3 linked regions of the Homo sapiens genome follow. The protein of the gene in region 2 purifies or fractionates together with the protein of the main gene of each other region. This does not show direct contact. Each region holds a gene or a part of one and is shown on either strand. Other genes may lie near its edges.

Region 1 (7,879 bases), on a different chromosome or scaffold from region 2:
CCTGTCCCCAATTTCCCAGTGTCCCTCCAGAAGCAGGGGCTGCAGGGAGAAGGGAGCAGGCAGGACTAGATGTACAGGGTACATCTAGTACCCCTGCCTTGCAGGGGCCCCAGCTCTAAGACTCCAGGGGATCCCTGTCTCAGCCACAACCCCAGTGCCGATGACAAAGCAGGAGCTGCCAGGCCAGAGGGCCAGGGAAGCCCCACAGTGTGCCTGGCAGCTGCTGCACTCAAGAGGCAGACATCTCGCTGATGTGCTCCGTGCCCAGAGCACTTGCCTCAGAGGCACTCTGGGGACACAGGGCTCCATTCCCACCCCTTTCCTTTGGAGCCAAGTTCAGGGTGTGGGTGGGGGATCAGGTGTGGCTGGTTCCCCAGGCCAGCACAGAGCGGCTGCTCCGAAGATCTGTGGGTGTAGACAGGAGTCTTCACTTGGATGCAAGTGAGACAGTTGACTGCAACGCTCTAGGGAGCTGCTTCTGAGCCACCCCTCAAGGCCCAGGGTTCTGGTGTGTCACTAGGACCCTGGGCCTTGCCCTTCCCATGGCCCTGAGTTCCCGGATACCAACTGTGACTGTGACTCTTGGTGCAGAAGACCTGGGAGGGTCTGCTCGGCAGTGCAGCCCCTTGCTGGCACAGAGTCCTGGTTAGGTCCAGGCCTTCACCTCTGCCCCTAAGGATGTTCCCAGGGGCCCAGGGGCAGACAGTCCTCCCAGGAACAAAGCAGGATGTGGAAACAGCCACAGGGCCTGGTGGCCTGGCCTGATTTCTAGACTAGAAGAACCTTGGCTCTGGGGCGACAGAAGCCTGTTCCCTTCCATAGGTGGTGTGGGTGGGGGGTGGGGGTGGGGCAGCTGAGGGTGTGTCCCACTCAGCATGTCCAGCAATTGCCCTCCTTTCTCCTCAGCCCTAGCTCCCACACCTGCCCATGGTGCCAGGTCCCAGGGCCAACTGCTCCCTAGCAGCCGTGACACTTGTGGATGCCTTAGAGGCTTGTCTTGTTCAATCCTCACTCCCATCCTGTGAGGCAGTCCCACTTATTCCCCCATCGTCCGGAGGAAGAAACTGGGGCTCAGGGAGGTGAAGTCACTTGCTCCAAACCACCCAGTAACAGGCACCGGGGTTGAGATCACCATTCAAGTCACCCCACCTGCATTAATCACTCTGCCTCTCAGCCTAGCCTCCCAATGTCACCACACTGAGGCCAGGTGGGTGGGGGCTGGGGGACTGAGGGACCTGTTGCACTGCTCTCAGCCCGTGGGCATTAGCCCAAAGCGGACCTCGGCGCCCAGAGGTGTGAAGCTGGCTCCTGCTGGTGCTCACCATGGGATCTTGGTGGGAATGACTTTGCTCCTTGTATGACAAGAGGAGCTTAGAGGGCTGTGAGGCTCCAAAGATGCAGGCAGGCCCAGGAGGACAATGTCCAGTAGATCCCCGTAGTCCTCCCTGAAACCTCCAAGGCAGGCTTCTCAGGATACTCTGAGGGTCTTCTCCGGGCCCAGAGCAAAGACTTCTTAAATAACGCTGGGCCGCCCCTCCACAGACACAAACTCAACCTGGGACCTCGAGGGTGGACAGATGCCCAAGGCTTCAAAATGACCATTCCTCAGGGGCCTTTACCATCCTGCCTTTACTGGTCAAGAAGTGATTCTCCGCCACCCCACAAAGCCGGAGTGAAAACCCCTGTCTAGCCAGTTAGAATCTTCCAGACAGGGCTACTTTGTTTTATCAGACAACAAAAGCCACGTCACCCCTGGGGGTTCCTCCGGAAGCTCTCCTGCCCTGCTTGGCCTGGTTCCAGTCATCACCCAACCCTGGGACAGAGAGGCCCCAGGACTGCGTTTCATGCTTGAGAGAGGGTGAGACTTGCTGGGGGACCACCCAACTGGTCAGTGATAGGGTCACGACCCAAACCATATCTGTCTGCTGCAGAAGCAGGGCCCCACTAGACCCACGGAGACAAGCAGGCAGATGTCCAGCACTCTCAGCTCTGGGGCCTCACTAGTGCGCCCCAGCCGGCCCCCTCCAAGAAGGGGCCTCAGCCTCCTCACGCCATTTCTCAGAGGGAGAGAGCAGGGACAGGGAGGTTAAGTGCCCTTTGCAGCCCTAGTCTGGGCTCCAGGGGGCGGGGGTGACTTGGCTTCTCCCAGCCTTCGCTGCCCGGGCTGAGAGGGGGCCGGACCTCCAGGGCGACATCGAGGTGTGTCTGGGAAGTCCAACCGGTGTCCCCTTTGGTCCGGCCGTCCCTAGGAGCCCGTTCCGCCCGGCGCCGCTCGCTGGCTTTGTCCACAGCACTCTCCCGCCCCAACTAAGGGTTGGCCGAGAACAAGGGGTTGGGGGCGTTTCCACCGCGGCTTCACGGCAGGCGGGACCCCGAAGGAAGTCGGCGGGGGCCCAGCACTCCGGCAGCCGCTCGAGGAGCCCCGAGCTCCTGCAGACCGAGCCGGGGAACAAACCTCCCGCCCGCCCCCGGGCGTCGGGGCGCCCCAGAGGCCCCCGGGATGAACGGCCGGAGCTTCTCGCGAAAAGCCGCCCGGCCCTTGCGCTCCGGGGCCCTGGCGAGCCCCACTGGGTGTTTCCCCGGAGGAGCGGCACCCTGGGGCTCGGTCCGTCCATCAGTCCACGCGGAAGACACCCCGGCGCACGTCCCGCCCCGGCTCACCCACCGTGCACCAGTCTCCGCATGTCCTGGTAGCGAGCCCATAGGTGCGCGCTGAGGTCGGCGCCGCTGGTGGGTGCCTGGGCGGGCGCGGAGCGCGGGACGCCGGGGCAGTGGGCGCCGGGACCCGGGGGGCCGCACCCAGGGCAGGAGGGCGAGGACGAGGCGGCTCGCGGCCCGCCGTGGCCTCCGCACAGCAGCCAGCGCCGAGCGGCCGCCCGCAGCCCCGCACCCGCCATGCCCACCGCGCGCCGCCCGCCGCCCGCGCTGCCCTCGGCCAGCCCGCCGCCCGCCGCCCGCCGCCCTCCGACTGCGCGCCCGCCACGGTGGCCTCGTGCTCCTCACGGCGGCCGGCCAATGGGTGCGGCGCGCGGAGCCCGGCCTGCCAATGGGCGCGCCCCTCGGCCCGGGGGGCGGGAGGCCCCGGACCCGGCGGGGCGGGGCGGGGCGGGGAGGGCTCCCCAGCCCCCTCCCCCAGCCAGTCTCCGGCGCGGTCCGGGAGGACTCTGCGCCCCCCTTCGGCCGTCACGCCGGCGATGGCGGCGCCTTTCCCTGGCCCCAGCCCTGGAAGTCAGCGGGCCTAAGAGCGGCCGTCCCTGAGAGGCTCCGGACGGCCGAGGCGCCGAGAGGAGACAGCCGGAGCGCGACGGGTACCCCCCGGGCCCCCGGGTCCTCTGCCGCCCTCTCCGCTCCCGGGTCCGCCCGCCCTACCCTGCGCCTCTGGATGCTTCTGACCCCAGATCCTCCGCTCCTCCCCCTAGTCCTGGTGCTCTCCTTTCCCGGGGTCCTGGTCCCCGGTCTCTGGGCTCGGACTGACTGCCCACTGACCAGAGCCCGGGCCAGTCCACTCACTGGTCTAACAAATAAAGAGCCCTTCCCGCGCTTCCCGGTGCCAGGCCCACGCTGGGGGAGGCCGAGGGGCCTGCAGGGCAGCCGACGTCCGCTAACCAGGTGACTGGGCCGTGCGCTGCAGGGTTGTGGGCCACGGTCACTGCGCCCGCTTGGTTCGGACCTCGGCAACTGGCCGCACTGACCCGTCAACTCCCGGTTTCCCGGCGCACGCCCCTCGTGAGATGCTGTGGTCTTTTCTAGCAACGTCGACAGGCTTTCCAACAAAATTCCTCTTTCCTGCGCAGAACCGCTCTCCACTCGCATTTCTTCTGCTCAGATCCGTATTCCGAGCCCGCACGCATACCAGGCTGTGCTCAGGGTCCGGAGGAGGCCGACCCAGTAGCCGTGGGCCCTGTCGGAGGGGAGCCAGCTGGGCGCGCGTTGTTTTCTGAGGTGGCCGCGCTGTCTTTCAGGGTGTGTGTACATTCGAAACTCCACTGAACCTTGATTGAAGACCTACAGTGTGGCAGTCCATGGCCTGGGGACTGGTAAGGATTGAGGCCGTAGGATGGGCTCGAGTGTGGCGGTGTCCCCAGGGCCCCAGTGAGCAAGTGGGTGTGCTGGGAACCTGGCCACAAGTGAACCTCCTCCAGGCGAGGGGATGCCCTGCAGCATCCAGCCGTCAAAACCTCCTGTAGAAACGGGAGCGAGCATCAAGCCTGTGTGTGTGCATGCTTGGGCGGAGTCTACCCGGAGGAGAAAGAGGCTTCCGGGCTGGCCCTCCAAAGCCGGTTGTACAGGCGGCAGCTCAGGCTGCTCACTGCGGGCCCTATGACCCTTTCTGGGGCCCTGCTTGCTCTCTCCAGTCTGCTTTTGTATATTTTGTGTCCATATCACCAAATCGTCTCATTGGTTCTAAGCTTTCATTTACCTTCCTTAGATTGTCTAATAGTTGTCTCCTTTCTCAAAGCTGTTCCTGCAGTTTTTACTTTAGTCCTAGGTAATGGGGTGACAGCCCCTTTCAGTTATCTTCAGCAAGCACAGCAGCATGAGAAGACGCAATTACAAGTGAAGTCTCTTAAGTCAGAGCCCTGCTTCTACCTGGCATAGTCTCTTAAACTGTCAGTTAAGAGACTACATATAAACAATACACGTTCAGACTCGGCGCGGTGGCTCACGCCTGTAATCACAGCACTTTGGGAGGCCAAGGCAGGAGGATCTCTTGAGCCCAGGAGTTTGAGACTAGCCTGGCCAATATAGTGGGACCCCCATCTCTACAAAAAATTAAAAAATTAGCCGGGCGTGGTGGTGCACGCCTGTAGTGGTGGGAGGATGGCTTGAGCCGGGGAGGAGGGGGTTGCAGTGAGCCGAGATTGCGCCACTGCACTTCAGCCTGGATGACAGAGCGAGGTCCTGTCTCAAGAAACAAACAAAAACCATGTTTGGGAATACATGTGAAGAGCGAGGGCTCTGCCAATCATTATCATCATAATGAATATTCTAACTAATATTAATCAGTTACTATGCTCCAGGGTTGTGTTCAGTGCATCATTCCTATTACCGCACTAAATTATCACAGCGTCAGAACAAGGCCTCCGTTTTACGGCTTAGGGAATTGAGGCACAGATGGGCTAAGGGAGCACCTGTAGAGCAGGGATGTGGTTTGGTAACAGAGTGCATGCTCTTTATACTGCTCTTCTGCGATTATTGTGAATAAAGCGCCTACAAGTGCCTGTGGAACTGTAAGTGCCCCATACAAGATAGCTTTTATTAATTTTAGGGTTCTCACGGGGCGCTTACTTAGATTTTTGCTGTGATAATTGATAAAGTTCAGCTTTCAACACTCCATATCAAATTCTGTTACTTTAGAAGTCTAGGCACCAATCACGTCTCCGAAATAAACGCAAGGCATTGCATAATTGCATTTTGGAATGTGGTGCTGTACATAGTCCATCAGAGAGGGTCATCACTTCTATCTGGGTATTAGGAATAAAAATGGCGGTGGCAGAGTAGGGGGCGCGGCTGCCAACTGCGAGCTCAGACCTGCACTGGGGAGGCAGGGGGCGGGGCCGGGCCGGCGCCACGTGGGCTGTCCTTCCCTTTTGGGCCGTCCCACCTCCAGAGCTGAGGCGCCTGCGCCAGCTCCTTCGAGGCCCTGCTCGGCTTCAGGGAGCACGCGCGCCCTGCCGTGCTCTGATTGGCGGAGCTGCACGCCCCCGCTGCAGTCTGATTGGCGGATCCGCCTCGCTTTAGAAGGTCGGCGCCCAGTTCCGGCACTCGTGCGCCTACCAGACAGTGGCGGAGGACGGCGCTCGCTAGTCTCCCAGGTCGCGGTACACGGCGAGAACGGGCGGGGCGGTCTCGGCTGCGTCCGGGCGATCCAGTGCTTAGTTCCGTCATATCCCTCTCCACGACCTCGGTCGAGCATGTTCACCAGGGCCCAGGTGAGACGGATTCTGCAGCGGGTGCCCGGGAAGCAGCGATTTGGCATCTACCGGTTCCTGCCCTTCTTTTTTGTCCTGGGAGGAACGATGGAGTGGATCATGATTAAAGTGCGCGTGGGCCAGGAGACCTTCTGTAAGTGAGGGGGTAGCAGTCTCTGTTTCCTTTCAGGAAGGCACGAGGCGGTAGGGATCCGTTTTTCTGGGGAGTATTCTCAGATTGCAGACCGCGCATTCCACTCAGAGCGCTGGGCGAGTGCAGTTCCATTCGCTTGGCAGTCAGGGCGGCCTGGCTCTCCTGTAGGCCGGGCACATTGGCGTCCAGCCTTGTGACCTTCCCTGCACTTACAGGCGAGATCACGTGCTTCTTCCAGCCCTCTCATGCCTGCCCTTCACCCCTGCCGGTGACATCGTTTGGGCTTAAGGAACAGACTTGCTCACAACAATCGTAGAAGGGGGTGGATATGAGGGGTCAGGGAAACTCCTGCTAACTAGCCATTTCTCTTTGGATTCTTCTGTCCAAACTCTGGAGGGAGCTGATCTGCCTGGCTTTGCTAATTACCACTACCTTTACAGGACAGTCATTGGCACCAGGTCTTTGGTCTGGGTCCAGATGATCAGCACTGTAAAGATAGTGGTAACGCCTGGCACTGCATTACTGAGCATTAACTCTGGACAGGCCAGTTCCTTTCAGGAGGACTTCCCCAACCCCTCGGCCCTTTCTGCTTTGCCCCTCTCCTGAAACGCTATCACTTGTGACTTGCCAACCCACATTTTAAAGAATTGTTACATTAGTGATTCCTAAAGATCCTTAGTCCTTCTGTTCATCCATTCATTGATACTTAATGAGCATTCTTGAGGGGCTATAATGAACAAGGCAGAGGTGTCCCTTACCCCAGAAGAGCTCTAATGGGAAAGAAGATGATAAAGACAATTAGCATACAAAGTGATCAGTGCTGTGAGAAGGAAGTGGGAGGAACATAGGACTCTCGGGTGGGCGCCTCAACTGGACTAGATGGTGCAGGGAAGGCTTCCGGAAGCAGCTACCAAGTAAAGTAGGACCTGAAGACTGAGTAGGTGTCAGTCAGATGAGGGGAAGGTGTGTGGAATTGAAAGCATCTCCATGGCAGTGGTAGGAGCACTTGTGTGAGAGTATGCTGTGTGTTTGAGGGATTGAAGCAGATCAACAAAGTGGGGATGGCTAGAAGGGTGCCTGGGCAGGGTGGCAAAGGGACTGGAGAACCAAGAATGGATCCCAAGGATTGAGTCATTTTAGGGAGAGGCTTTAACATGTGGAGAATGGCTCCTTGTGGACAGATTGGTAGGAACAGTTACGCTGTATGGCTGTCCAGAGTTGAGACAGTGGCCTGGTCTAGGTTGGGGCAGAAAGGATACCAAGAAGGGATGGAAGTAAAAGACAGCCCAGAGGTAGTACTGACAGGGCATGGTGATTAAGTGGACTCAGGAGATGAGGAGTGGAGGCTTCTGGTGGGACACCTGGGGCAGGGGGTAGTGCATTTCCTGAAGGTGCCGAACACAGGCAGGGCCATCCTGGGCACCATCTGGGACGTGACGAGGTAGATATGGTTATACAGAGCTGAAGCTCAGGAGGCAAATCTGGGCCAGAAATTGGGATTTGTGAACCATTCAGAAGCAAATTATGATGGAAGTCAAATCCCAACATTTTAATTTAATTTATTTATTTTTTGAGACTGAGTTTCGCTCTTGTTGCCCAGGCTGGAGTGCAGTGGTGCGATCTTGGCTCACCGCAACCTCTGCCTCCCAAGTTCAAGTGATTCTCCTGCCTCAGCCTCTGGAGTAGCTGGGATTACAGGCATGCACCACCACGCCCGGCTAATTTTGTATTTTTAGTAGACATGGGGTGTCTCCATGTTGGTCAGGCTGGTCTAGAACTCCTGACCTCAGGTGATCTGCCCACCTTGGCCTCC
Region 2 (7,022 bases):
GACTATGAGTGTGTATTTATTCATGAAATTTGAACTGTTTGCCCCGAAATGGATATGGAATACTTTATAAGCCATAGACACTATAGTATACCAGTGAATCTTTTATGCAGCTTGTTAGAAGTATCCTTTATTTCTAAAAGGTGCTGTGGATATTATGTAAAGGCGTGTTTGCTTAAACTTAAAACCATATTTAGAAGTAGATGCAAAACAAATCTGCCTTTATGACAAAAAAATAGGATAACATTATTTATTTATTTCCTTTTATCAAAGAAGGTAATTGATACACAACAGGTGACTTGGTTTTAGGCCCAAAGGTAGCAGCAGCAACATTAATAATGGAAATAATTGAATAGTTAGTTATGTATGTTAATGCCAGTCACCAGCAGGCTATTTCAAGGTCAGAAGTAATGACTCCATACATATTATTTATTTCTATAACTACATTTAAATCATTACCAGGAACTGTTTGTTTTGTAGTGAACCTTGAGTATGTGCTGTTAATATACCAAATTGGGTGAAAAAATAAGGGATTCCTTTCAAAAGTTAAGAGAAGTAAGTGTGTAAGAAATTATTTTGCTTATTAAATGTTCGGTAAATGGCATTCTCTTGTCAGTAAAATGGAGAAATAAGCTAAAAATAATTGGCTAAGTCCTATTAAGTTAGAGGATTAAGTGTATTATATTTTCATTCAAAATTGGGTGCTCATTAATTTATGATCGGTAGTATAGCTAAATTGCTATGTTTGTATCAAAATTGAGCATAAAGTTGCTGATACTTTCTCCGTATGAACAGAAGTTGAAACCTATTTAGTTCAGTAGGGCAGCTCAGGGATTTTTTACACAACATGTATATCTTCCCATTTTAAGTTAGAATTATTTTACAACATCTGGTATACATAAACAGCTGGCACTGATAGCTAAATTAAAGTAGTAATGATCAATTAGTTTTGTTGGTATCTGAATAATAGCGTTGTTTCATAGCTCTGTATTTCCTAAGGAAGTACAAAGCTTCTAGCTCTTTCATTACAAATTCGCCCTGTGCAATAAGTTCTTTGATCTTCTCTGGATTCTTCACATCTTTGTTTTTAAGGAAAATGTTCTTCAAACGCTTTTTAAAATAGTCTGCTCCTTTTGGATAGTCTCGTCCAAGATACAGCAGCTTCAAAAAGAAAGATTATATATTTCTAAACAATCCATGTCATATAATAACATTTTTATAAAATTGGCAACATAATTACTTACATTTTTATAAAGTTTTAGTACTTCTCCTCTTAAAGAATTGGCCATTTTCATTTATCATGTAAATTATCCACTTTTATGCATAACATACCTAAAGAAAGGAAAATTTTTTTGCAATTAGCTGCATTGTAGTCTTAAAAAAATAAAAAAAGGTTATACACATTGAGAAAATGGTAACCTTTTTTACATTCAATAAATATTTCTTGATAACTTTTTCGTTCCACGTACTGGGATATAGTTATAAACACTTCCGATAAAATTACCTGCTGTCATAATTGACGTTTTCCTATGGGAGACATAAGCAAAGACAATTGTGATTGTGAGAAGTCACATGAAGGAAATGAGAAAGTGGATTGTCATCACAGATAGGTACGTGTACCTCCTTTTATGCCACAGTGGAATGAGTTAAACTAGATTTAAATTCCAGTTGCATAATGTACAGATTAATTAACCTTGCTGAGCCTGAGTTTTCCTTATCAACAAACAAGAGATTATCTTTACCCTGCTCTCAAGGCAAGGCCAGAGCCACTTGAAGGACATTGAGCAGAAGCCTGATCAAATGCTGATGGGTGCTTATCCAAAGGGAGGCTGAAAACTAGCAGAAACTGGGTGAGTTAAGCAGGTTGGAATAGTAGATGGGCAGTAAGATTGGTGGTGAAGAGGCCAAATGAACAACCTGTAAGAGGGTGTCCCTGAGGAACAGGCAAAATCATGCTTCTTTATGTGTAATGTGTTAACTCTACTTTGTAGAGGAGGCTCCAAACTTAAAGGCATCATGACAGTCTAAACCTAGAAAATAATTCCCACTACCTGTTAGAGTTGAATAGTAAGCTCTTAACATTGCATCCTATCAGGTGGATGCAACTGCAATTTGTTCCATTGTGATTGATAACTTTGATTACCCAATTAATGTATTTGCTAAGATTGTCCATTGTAAAATTATTTCTCCAAGGAACCTAGTCCTTTTAATGGAGAATAGCATTTAGAAACTATAATCTGGATGGAATGCTTTAGAAACCAAGGTCTGGGTGCTAAAAATGCTAATCACCATGGGACTGTCACTGTTCCCAGGTCCTCTAAGTGACAAAGCTGCAAGTGTATATACATACGGATTTAGGTGTTGTATGTGTGTATGACTTTTATATTAATCTCCATATAATCTGCTACCTAACATTCAATTCCAATACTACAGGGTTTATTTTCATTTCCCCTCTTTACATGGGTTTAATACTCTTGCTGAACAGTGAGAAGTCTGGTTCCCACTTGTCCTTAATAAATTTACTTTTTATAATCATCACCCCTTCTCTCACTATGTAATCAAAATCCTCTTGCTGTCACCATTCGGCGCACACACTCTACTCTCTGAGCTCTGCCACCTAATGCCAGAGTGCCACTGCCACCATCCCACATGCATGGTCTTCTCTTCCCCCTTTCCCCCAACCTACCCTTCTTGGGCTCAAGCAACTTACACTGCACCATTTCCTCCCTCCTGGGTAAGGCTCACCTTTTGTTCCCATTCCAAAAACCTGTGCCACCATTTCCTTCACCCTAATAGGATGCCCTCCTCATCCCCTGCTAGGCTGCTGCTGTGCACAAGTCCCTACCCCCAGAGGCCCTCCTCACTGCATTTGGGCTCCAGTATCCCCTGCTGGGCTACTACCTTGCCAGCCTTTCTCTCGCCCCCACCTTCCCCAGATGCCTGCCTTGCTCAGCCCCACGTAATGACTTTTGGACTGAATTACTCTGATAGGCAAGCAGGAAGCAACTTTTTTTTTTTTGAGATGGATTCTTGCTCTGTCCCCAAGCTGGAGTGCAGTGGTGCCATCTCAGCTCACTGCAACCTCCACCTCCCTGGTTCAAGCAATTCCCCTGCCTCAGTCTCCCCAGTAAGCTGGGACTACGTGTGCGCGCCACCACGCCTGGCTAATTTTTTTTTTTTTTTTTTTTGTATTTCAGTAGAGACGGGGTTTCACCATGTTGGCCGGGATGGTCTTGATCTCCTCACCTTGTGATCCACCCACCTTGGCCTCCCAAAGTGCTGGGATTACAGGCGTGAGCCACCGTGCCCGGCCGCAACTTATATTTTTAAAATAGGCTTTTAGATCAGTTTTAAGGGTTATTTTATAGTTAACTAGCAGAAAATGTGGATTAAAATTACAGTACCATACTCAATTAAAAATCATGCGCTACATAATTTAAGTTCTCCTGTTAACTTCTGTTTGGGTTGAACCCCGAAGTACAATAGTGTAGATTCTCATTGTGACCTCACCTGCCCCTTTAGGCATTTTGCAAAATTTACACCTTTTACAATTTGAAAGGCAGGGTGCCAGTGCCTTCATGTATTTCATTTAATCTGAAATTTTTATACGTATTAGACATAGAAACTGCATAAAATATGAATGTACAAATTAAAGTAAAATATACATCTGGGTACCCATCATTCAAGTTATGAAACAAAAGTCTTAGAAGCCCCCATGTGCCCCTCTCCAATTGCTTCTCCTTCCCCATCTCTACCAAGATAGCCTCTAATGACTTCCTGCTTATTCTCTTTAGTTTTCCCAGCACTCATGAACATTGCCCTAAATATTTAATTTTGGCAATTTGAGCAGCAAGCACGAATCTAGCAAGGAAAAGGGCAACAATGCTGCTGTTAATTAAAGCCAAACAGCCCTAGTCTGGCTTTACCTTCTCCAGGCTTTCTGGATCCCTTCTAGAGAAGTTAATTTGCAATGTCATGAGTGAATACTGGGCTCCTCACAACTGAAGCATGTGGAAAGATCAAAGTGTAGAATTGATACCTGATTTCTGGCCAATACATAGCAAAAATGGGAAGGAGGAAGGCTATTTTCTGCTTTAAGCTCACCAACGCCCAACATCAGCTTTCAGGAATAGGTTGAAAAAGAAGGGTAAAAATGAGTGTCCTCAGTTGGTCCAGTCAGCACAGCACAGAAGAGAGCAGGAATTTCATCACCACATGGTCAAGACAAGGCAAATACCGGTAAGAATCTGAGCCAGGCTTGCCTGGGCATAATGTCCTCAGATTAAAAAGATGATACAATGGCAGCAGGGATCTTAGTGATAATAGCCATCAATGTGAGTCATGCTGCTTGATTCTGGACTGACTGCTCTCTACATCAAGAAGCACAACTGTGGTGCTGGAATCCTACTTGACCATGCTCCCAGAAATTCCTCTTGCCTATCCTCTATGTTGATTATCCCATTTTCTACATTCCAAAGTGTTCCATTTCCTGGTTTTATTTTTGTTTCTGTGGAGCACATCCTAACTTCTTGAAAAGGGTACATGGAAGGTAAATGAGACCCTGGATGTCTAAAAATGGCTGGCTCCCTCTATCTGTTTGATAGCTTGTCTGAGTATAGAATTGAAAGCTGGAAATAATTTTCTTTTCAACATTTTGAAGTAGTTGCTCGTCTGTTTGCTTTTACCATTGCTATTAAGTTCAAAGCAGTCCTGGTAAGTGATCCTCTGTATGTGATGTATTTTTTCTCTCTCTCCCCAGAAACTTACAGAATCTTCTCCATGAAGATTTTGAAATGTTAGTGATGTGTTGATAATGGATTTATTTTTATCCATTGTACTGGACACTCAGTTGGCCCTTGCAATCTGGACACTTGTTTCCTTCAATTTGGGAAAAAATTTTAAATGATTTCATTCATGATTTCCTCCCTCCTCCATTTTCTTTTTTCTCCCTTCCTGGAACTTTTATTATTTGGATGTTTGAACTTCTAAACATGTTCTCTTCCTTTTTTCTGTACTATTTTCCATTTGTCTTTTTTTTTTAAGCATGGAGTTTCGCTCTTATCACCCACGCTGGAGAGCAATGGCCTGATCTCAACTCATTGCAACCTCCGCCTCCTGGGTTCAAGTGATTCTCCTGCCTCAGCCTCCCAAGTAGCTGGAATTACAGGTGCCTGCCACTAAGCATGGCTAATTTATGTATTTTTAGTAGAGATGGCTTTTCACCATGTTGGCCAGGCTGGTCTCGAACTCCTGACCTGAGGTGATCCACTCTCCTTGGTTTCCCAAAGTGCTGGGATAACAGGTGTGTGCCTCTGCGCCCAGCCTTTTATTTAGTTGTATGGGGGATTTTCTCATTTTCTTCTTCCAAGTGTTCTACTGAGTTGTTCATTTCTGCTCTTCCTGGACAGTTAATTTTGACCACTCAGATTGCTCTCAGCATAGCTGGAGACTACTATAGAGATGTTAAAAATACTCAAAAATTATAATAGAGTAGCCTGGGAATGGGAGTAGGGGCTGGAGACCAGGAAGGAATCAAAGATGCACAAGGCAACCTTTGTGGATAGTGGATATATTTATTGTCTTGATTGTGGTGATGGCTTCATTGTGTGTGTGTGTGTGTGTGTGTGTGTGTATGTATACATATATGTATATATACAAATCTATATAATTAGTATAGATACTATATAGTATATAGTATGTAGTTTTCCCACCACTTAGCCCTGTTCTTAGACTTTTGCTGGCATTTCTATTACTTGCAAAAATATATTAAAATATATATTGACAAACAGAGGTAGCCAGCCATTTTTAGTATATAGTATACTATGGTATATATATCTACCATATACTACATAGTATGTACTATGTAGTACATATATAGTTATGTACTATATATATTACTATATACTACATAGTACAGTATGTACTATATGTACTATATGTACTATGTAGTACATACTACGTAGTATATAGTAGATATATATAGTATATAGTACATAGTAATTCCTTTTATTTTTGTTTCTATGGAAACAAAAATATGTATACTATATATTATACTATATGTAGTATATATTATAGCACATATATATCTATAAATATGCATATATAGATGTGTATATATATGAACCAAATTTATCGAATTATACTTTGTAAGTGTAATTCAGTGTCAATTCTACTTCAGCAAAACTTAAAAAAATAATAGAAATGCCAGCCAAAGTCTAAGAACAGAGCTAAGAGATGCTGAAATAACACATGGAAGTAGAAATCCATCTAAACCACAAGGCTGCCAATTCGTGGGTAGGATAGGTGACTCTACCTGTCCTCAGTCGATGGCTACACAGAACTTGGGGTATGCCTCTCTGGGGAAGGAACCCTGGAATATACACTTGAATCAATGAAAAAATCTGAAAGACACTTGCCGCCAGCATAGCAGTGAAGCCATGACCTTTTCTTAACTGAAGGTCATACATTTACTGCTTTTCTGGCTCCTCTTTCCTAGGGAAAAAAATACTTCTACATTAATACTTGTTAAATTGTACTTACTACTAGTTAATGAGCTAATTCACATAACAAGCATATTATGTAGGCATTTTTTCTTTCCAAGTTCACTGATTCTTGCTTTCTTGAAATTTTCTGTTGTTTTACTTCAAATTGCTTTTCTGCTTGCTTTTGTCTCTTATCACTTCTGAGCTGTTTTACTTCAAATTGCTTTTCTGCTTGCTTCTGTCTCTATCACTTCTGAGCTTTCTTCCAAAGTCTGGTCATTCTTTTCTGTCTACTCTTATGAATGAAAAGACAAAAAAGCTTTTTAGATCTGTATACGTGGGTGAAGCATATAGACTCTGGGCTTCACTTAGGGTGCTCTGGGTGGGCCTTTACTGGGGAACCTCTGATGTCACTATCTTGGATTGCTCCTCCTGGGCTGGTCAGTTCCTCAGAGTTGAGTCTTCCAGTCTTCTAAGGATAAGAGGAATGCGGGCCCTGCATCCAGCATTATGTATTCCTAAATTCACTTAACTTTGTTTCCA
Region 3 (7,022 bases), on a different chromosome or scaffold from region 2:
TTTCCCTCATATCATCCCCAGTGGACATCACTGTAAAACGCAGTCGCCTTTTCCACTGCAGTCTGATGAACATTTTAAATGGGATGTACCTTTTTATTTCTTAAACTGACTAGGCAGTGCTACGACGCTGCCTCCCAGGTCAGAGTCTGTGACCTCCTCGGGGACCTAGTGGGAAAAGCTGGGCCTCACTGCTCCTGGGGCCCCTCCCCTCCCCTCCCTGCACCCTCAGTGTCCACCCTGGGGCCTGGATGGGGCCTGAGCACAGCCCCGCCCCTGGGCTCAGAGGCCTCCTCTGCTTGCTTCAGGGTTAGCAGCCACGTTCTGGAGGGCTGGGGGTACCAGAAATCCGACCTCCGGACCAATGGGGTACTCATGAAATACTCTACGTCCAGGCAAAGAAAGAACGTGGAGGATTGAGTTTCCAGGAACATGTAAAGAAACTTCTTATAAAACCAGAATTTGTTTTCATAGTTCCCTAAGGTTAAGGAAAGTATAATGACAAGAAAAACTGTTTGGAAAGAGTTGTAAATTTAGTTGTCTGGGTAGACAAGGAACTTAAATCGGGTGTAAGCTTCTATCCTCAAAACACTCTGTGAGGCCAGGAGCAGTGGCTCACGCCTATAATCCCAGCACTTTGGGAGGCTGAGGCAGGCAAATCACTTGAGGTCAGGAGTTCGAGATCAGCCTAGGCCACATGGCGAAACCCCGCCTCTACCAAAAATACAAAAATTAGCCAGGCGTGGTGGCACACACCTGTAGTCCTAGCTCCCGGGGAGGCTGAGGTAGGAGGATCACTTACAGCCTGGGAGGTCAAGGCTGCAGTGAGCCATGATTGCACCACTGCACTCCAGCCTGGGCGACAGCAGGAGACCCTGTCTCCAAAAACAAACCCACAAAAAAACAAAACAGGTGACACGTTCTCTATGGTCACTACACTTTGTCACTTTCCATCTGTTAGTTGATAACCTGCATGATCCAAACCGATTTAACTCACTTTTGCCTCCTTCACAAAGGAAAACCTGGTATTTTCACGGCCAAAGGATTCAATGATTCAGCAGCACTGTCAAGATATAAGCTGTTGGCTGGGCATGGTGGCTCATGCCTGTAATGCTAGCACTTTGGAAGGCCGAGGTGGGTGGATCACCTGAGGTCAGGAGTTCAAGACCAGCCTGGCCAACATGGCAAAACCCTGTCTCTACTAAAAATACAAAAATTATTAGCTGAGTGTGGTGGCACACGCCTGGAGTCCCAGCTACTCGGGAGGCTGAGGCAGGAGAATTGCTTGAATGAACTCAGGGGCTGGAGGTTGCAGTGAGCTGAGATCATGCCACTGCACTCCAGCCTGGGTGAAAGAGTGAAACTCTGTCTCAAAAAATAAAAACAAAAAGCAACAAAGATGTAAGCTGTTGACAGCAGTAATCCACACACTGTTGTACAAAACCTAGAGGTGCTTTCACCTTTGCTCGCTTCTGCGCTCTTAGAGGCCCACGGTTATACAAGACCATGCAGAAATAACATATGGGCCGGGCGCGGTGGCTCACGCCTGTCATCCCAGCACTTTGGGAGGCCGAAGTGGGTGGATCACGAGGTCAGGAGTTCGAGACCAGTCTGACCAACATGGTAAAACCCAGTCTCTACAAAAATTAGCCAGGCATGATGGCACCCAGCTACTCAGGAGGCTGAGGCAGGAGAATCGCTTGAACCTGGGAGGCGGAGGTTGCAGTGAGCTGAGAACAGACCATTGCACACTCCAGCCTGGGCAACTGAGACTCTGTCTTAAAAAAAAAAAAAAAAAAAACCCAAAAAACAACGTATGAACATTAAGACCATGAGCGTATGCAGAAATTCACAGCCTTTTAGTAACTTCTCAAATGTGTAGAGAGCCCATTTAAAAGCAGGACTTCAACTTCGCAAAGTGCTTTCCATCGCCTCACTTTCACTTTATAATAACTATTTTATATTGAGAAAAGATAAGCATGGCCGGGTGCGGTAGCTCACACCTGTAATCCCAGCACTTTGGGAGGCTGAGGCAGGTGGATCACTTGAGGTCAGGAGTTCAAGACCAATCTGGCCAACATGGTGAAACCCCGTCTCTACTAAAAATACAAAAAGGAGCCGGGCATGGTGGTGCACGCCTGTAATCCCAGCTACTCAAGAGGATGAGGCATGAGAATCGCTTGAGCCTGGGAGGCGGAGGCTGCAGTGAGCCAAGATCAAGCCACTGCACACTCCAGCCTGGGCGACAGAGTGGGAATTTGTCTCAAAAAAAAAAAAAAAAAGCCAGGGAGAAAGAATTCAAGGACATTTCAGTGTCTAGAGAGCCGGAGGAGTGAATCCCGCCTCTCCCACTCAGTGTAGACACTTCAGGCTGCCAGACTGAGTACCCAGGCCCAGTGCCCCACATCCCAGCCAGTTTCCCCTACACATTTTCACACAACGAGAGGCAAAATGCTTTCAGTCTGTGCACACCAAGACCACGCCGATGACTACTGTCCAAGTGAACGTAACAATCTGGGCTGGTGAAATGGGACGTTCCATTCGGGGGGAGCTGAGGGAAGGTATTTACCAGAAGGCCCAGCCCCAGCTGCCAGCGTGGGGCAGAAACACTCAGGGTGACTGTCCCCGGGACCCTTTCAGACAGAGGCCTGAATGGCACGTAGCACCATCCTCTACAGTCCACGAGAACACAGGACTGTTAATACCACCCGTATTTGTAAGTGAAAACTACGTGTATTTCAAAAGCCGTTCAATGCCTGAAAGTGAACCGAAAGCAAAGTACAAACCCGGACATCCTCTTGTTGATGTTAAACTGTTCACAGATGTCAGAGGCCAGCACTGTGAGCTGGGGCCCAACGATGCTGTCCAGTCTTCGGCAAAAATCCAACGTTGGGTGGACAGAGGCTGGCAAGTCATGACAAAAAATACCAGTAAGATTCATTTTACTGTGCGACGCTGAACAACAGTATTCAAACGAAAACTTCACTGGTCTGGGAAAACAAACAATGAATGCTCAGGCCCCCTTCTGCTCCTCAAATAGAAGAGAAACAGAAGATAGAAAACCGGTTACATTTCAGATGAAAAAAGGGCGAAGACCTATCTCACCGTGAAAAGCTGACCGAGGCACACCCTGTAGGGTGGTAAACGGTTGCCTACCCCAGAAAGACCTCAGAAGGTCGTATGTTTATTTAACAAACATTACGTAGCACTCATGGGCCAGGTGCTTCACAGACATGACCTCATTCGATCCTCAGAACCCCCCCGAGAGAGGTACCACTGCTGTCTCCAGCTCGCAGTCGGTGGGACACAGAAAGATGCCCACACTCTACTGCTGACTAGCGGGAAAACTAGGACTTAAAAAATATGAGCACTGGCTAGTTAAGGAGACAGGGGGGTCCCAGATGGGGAACAGGGCTCCTCTCTATGCCTCTATATTGCTTATGACAACACATTTATCATTTAATGGGCTGGGTGTGGGGGCTCACGCCCGAAATCCCAGCACTTTGGGAGGCTAAGATGGGTGGATCGCTTGAGCCCAGGAGTTTGACACTAGCCCGGGCAACATAGTGAGACCCTGTCTAAACAAACAACCACAAAAACATTAGCTGGGTCCGGCGGTGTGTACTGGCAGTCCCAGCGACTTAGGAGGCCAAGGTGGGAAGATCACTTGAACCCAGGAGGTCGAGGCTACAGTGAGCTATGATCATGCCACTGCACTCCAAGAGTGAAACCCCGTCTCCAACAAAAAAAGCCCAAACAACCGAAACCCCCAAAACATATTTATCACTTAAGAATAGGATGCAGCAAAGTACAAAAAGCTTAGGCTGAAATCAGACAAAGGCGCGTACCCACCGTCGATCATAAAGCACACAGCCGCACTCATGGCCTGGGAAGACAGAACAAACCAGAGGTTATGAAATGGTGGAAAAAAGGAGACTTTCGTATAATAACAATCTGTTCAAAGTCAATGGGGAGAAGTCAACTGTAAGAAGCTGCTTTTTGGTCAACTAGAGCCATCTGGACACAGACTGCCCATTCCATGATGCGAGGGGAGTGCTGTTGACCTTGTCAGGTGTGACAGCGCCAGTGGGGAGGTTACCACGGATGTCCTCATCAGAGAGGCACAGGGAAGTGTTCGTGACTGACGTGATGACTTAAAATGCTCTTGCAAACCCGACAACACAACATGGAGAAGCAACGAAGACCAGAATCTTATTCACTTGTGTGATGGGGACTTAGGGGTTCACTGTTCTAGTCTCTCTGTGTATAGTCCAGAGAGAATAGAGAATTGGCAGAAACTGTCCATTATTCTGTGACGATTTCCATTGACACACGTTTACAAAGACAGCAAATGGATATCATCCTGTCTCACTTTATTATAGCAAGTAATTACAGTTATGACATTAGACCTAGCAACCGACAACAACCAGGACCACAGATAACCAAAAATGTTTAAAAGTTATCAAAGCAATGTATGGTTAAGAGAGGCTGAGCAGAACACCAGGCCTGATGATGAAAGCCACAGATTTCGTTCTCTGACCCTCCTCCCCGGCAACCACTTTACACTGTCATTAGACAACAGCGTTATCCTAACTCTTCAACGTATCCTCTTTGGGCATCGTACTGACTTCCTGCTCATGTCATGACAGGTGTGACCCCTCGTCTGCCTTCCCCCTCCTCCTCTATGGTTTATAGCATTCTATTTCCTCCGCTGGCCGCCTTCCACCAGCCACAGCCTCCGCTCCTGAACTCACATTCCCACCTGCCCCAGTACCTCTTCCCACTTCCGAGAGCGAAATCCTGTCTCAAGAGAAGAAAGATCTCAAATCAGTGACCTGACCTTTCGTCTTAAGATCCTGGACAACAGGAGTCAACTAAACCTAAAGCAAGTGGGGCCGGGTGTGGTGGCTCATACCTGTAAGCCCAGCACTTTGGGAGGCCGAGGTGGGCGGATCACCTGAGGTCAGGAGTTTGAGACCAGCCTGGCTAACATGGCAAAACCCCATCTCTACTAAAAGTACAAAAAAATTAGCCGGGCGTGGTGGTGCGCCTATAATCCCAGCTACTCAGGAGGCTGCGGCAAGAGAATCATGTGAACCTGGGAGGCAGAGGTTGCAGTGAGCTGAGACTGTGCCACTGCACTCCAGCCTGGGTGACAGAGCAGGACTCCGTCTCAAAAAAAACAAAAACAAAAACAAAAAAACCCAAACAAACCTAAAGCAAATGGAAGGAAATAATAAAGCATGAGAGCAGAAACAAACTCAACAGAGAAAAATCACAGAGATAATAAATGAAACCAAAAGTTGTTCTCTGAAAAGACCCAACATTGAAAAACTTTTCCTTTTTCTTGTGAAGATTCCAGAAGTATGAAGAACCTTTAGCTAGACTATACAACAAGGAACAAAGAGAGAAGACTCAAATTACTAAAACCAGGAATGAAAGAGGAGACATCACTACTGACTTTACAGGAAAAACGAAGGAGTATCCGGCTTTACCTACAATACCATGAAAAACCACGTGCCGACAAATCAAATAAATTAATTGAAGCTGACAAATTCCTAGAAAGACACAAACTACCAAAGCTGACTCAAGAAGAAACAAAATCAAAATAAACCTGTAACAAGTACAGAGATTAACCCATTTATGCTGGAGGTTGTAAATCTTTTTTGTGAAAAATGAGACCTTGGCAATGACCTTCAGCAGGATATAAATAACTCTCACAAGCTTAGTGTTCCAATAATGGAACACTGGGCATAAATGGTTAACTTTAAAATTTGCCACAAAGAAAAGCCCAGGTGCAGAGAGCTTGACTGTGAATTCTATGAAACATGTAAAGAGGAATTAACACCAATTTTTCACTGTCTTCCAAAAAAATAGGAGGGAACATTTCCCAACACATTTTATCAAGCCAGCATTGCCCAAAGATATCACAAGAAAACAAAACTACAGGCCAATATCCCTTACACCCAAGCCCGCACAGCACCCGCTCCACCTCTGGAGGGCTGGAGACTAAGGCTGGCCATGTGGGGCCAGCTGTGTCTCTGTGGCCAACCCCCAATCAAATCTCTGGATCTCGAGGCTCAGGTGAGCTTCCCTGGATGTCAACACTCCATAGAGACAGCCACACATCCTCGATGGGGAAACACTCACTGGGCTGTCCACATGACCCCAACGGGAGAGGACAGCCGGAAGCTCACACCAGAGTGGGACTCCATCTCAAAAACCAAAAAACCAAAAAAAAAAAAAACAAAAAACAAAACAAAAACCCAAAAAACCAAACCAACCCAAACCAACCTAAAGCAAATAGAAGGACTCCTGGTCCTTCCATTGGTGGCTCCTGCGCCCTGCCCCACACGCCTCTTCCCCGGGCTGATTTTAACCTGTATTCTTCCACTGTAATAAACCGCAGCTGTGAGTGCCGCCATTCTTCCTTCCCCCTGGTTTTGTTTCCCATGGTTTCTGTTATGTGAGGGACAGTATAATAAAATATTGAGGGAAGGGGGAAGCAAACCGCATTCACATGACTTTTATTGCAGTAGAGTGTCATCGTCCAATTATGATTACTATTACTTGTTTTGAGATGGGGTCTCACTCTTGTCCAGGCTGGAGTGCAGTGGCACGATCTTGGCTCACTGCAACCTCCGCCTCCCAAGTTCAAGAGATTCTCCTGACTCAGCCTCCTGAGTAACTTGGATTACATGTGCATGCCACCATGCCTGGCTAATTTTTCTATCTATAGTAGAGGCAGGGTTTCACCACACTGGCCAGGCTGGTCTCAAGTTCCTGGCCTCAAGTGATCTGCCTGCCTCGGCCTCCCAAAGTGCTGGGATTACAGGTGTGAGCCACTGCGCCCAGCCTTATTAATCGCTTACTGTACTGAATTTATAAACATTATCACAGGCATGTATGTACAGGAAAAAACACAGCAAGTGAAGGGTTTGGTACTGTCCCCGGTTTCAGGCACCTCCCGGGGGTTTTGGAACACATGGCCTTTGGCTCGGGGGTACTGCTGTAGAAAGCCTTTT

The links.
Region 1: the proteins of ETFRF1 (region 2) and NT5DC2 purify together in Homo sapiens (affinity purification with mass spectrometry; 3 studies listed by BioGRID and IntAct, with this or other methods). This does not show direct contact.
Region 3: the proteins of ETFRF1 (region 2) and CCZ1 purify together in Homo sapiens (affinity purification with mass spectrometry, with the first as the bait; 2 studies listed by BioGRID). This does not show direct contact.

Annotation. Positions count from the first base shown.
Region 1 is NC_000003.12:52,530,841-52,538,719, forward strand, and holds the start of NT5DC2 (5'-nucleotidase domain-containing protein 2), read right to left. Parts: upstream 3,018-7,879; 5' UTR 2,898-3,017; coding exon 2,666-2,897; intron 1-2,665. Other genes in the region: UQCC5 (ubiquinol-cytochrome c reductase complex assembly factor 5), read left to right, coding at 5,916-6,066. UniProt on the Homo sapiens protein: Promotes dephosphorylation of tyrosine 3-monooxygenase TH which decreases TH catalytic activity and leads to reduced synthesis of catecholamines including dopamine, noradrenaline and adrenaline.
Region 2 is NC_000012.12:25,198,227-25,205,248, reverse strand, and holds the end of ETFRF1 (electron transfer flavoprotein regulatory factor 1), read right to left. Parts: exon of another isoform or gene 1,417-7,022; intron 1,330-1,416; 5' UTR 1,293-1,329; coding exon 1,242-1,292; intron 1,159-1,241; coding exon 937-1,158; 3' UTR 106-936; downstream 1-105. UniProt on the Homo sapiens protein: Acts as a regulator of the electron transfer flavoprotein by promoting the removal of flavin from the ETF holoenzyme (composed of ETFA and ETFB).
Region 3 is NC_000007.14:5,915,728-5,922,749, reverse strand, and holds part of CCZ1 (vacuolar fusion protein CCZ1 homolog), read right to left. Parts: intron 3,884-7,022; coding exon 3,850-3,883; intron 2,902-3,849; coding exon 2,784-2,901; intron 1-2,783. UniProt on the Homo sapiens protein: Acts in concert with MON1A, as a guanine exchange factor (GEF) for RAB7, promotes the exchange of GDP to GTP, converting it from an inactive GDP-bound form into an active GTP-bound form.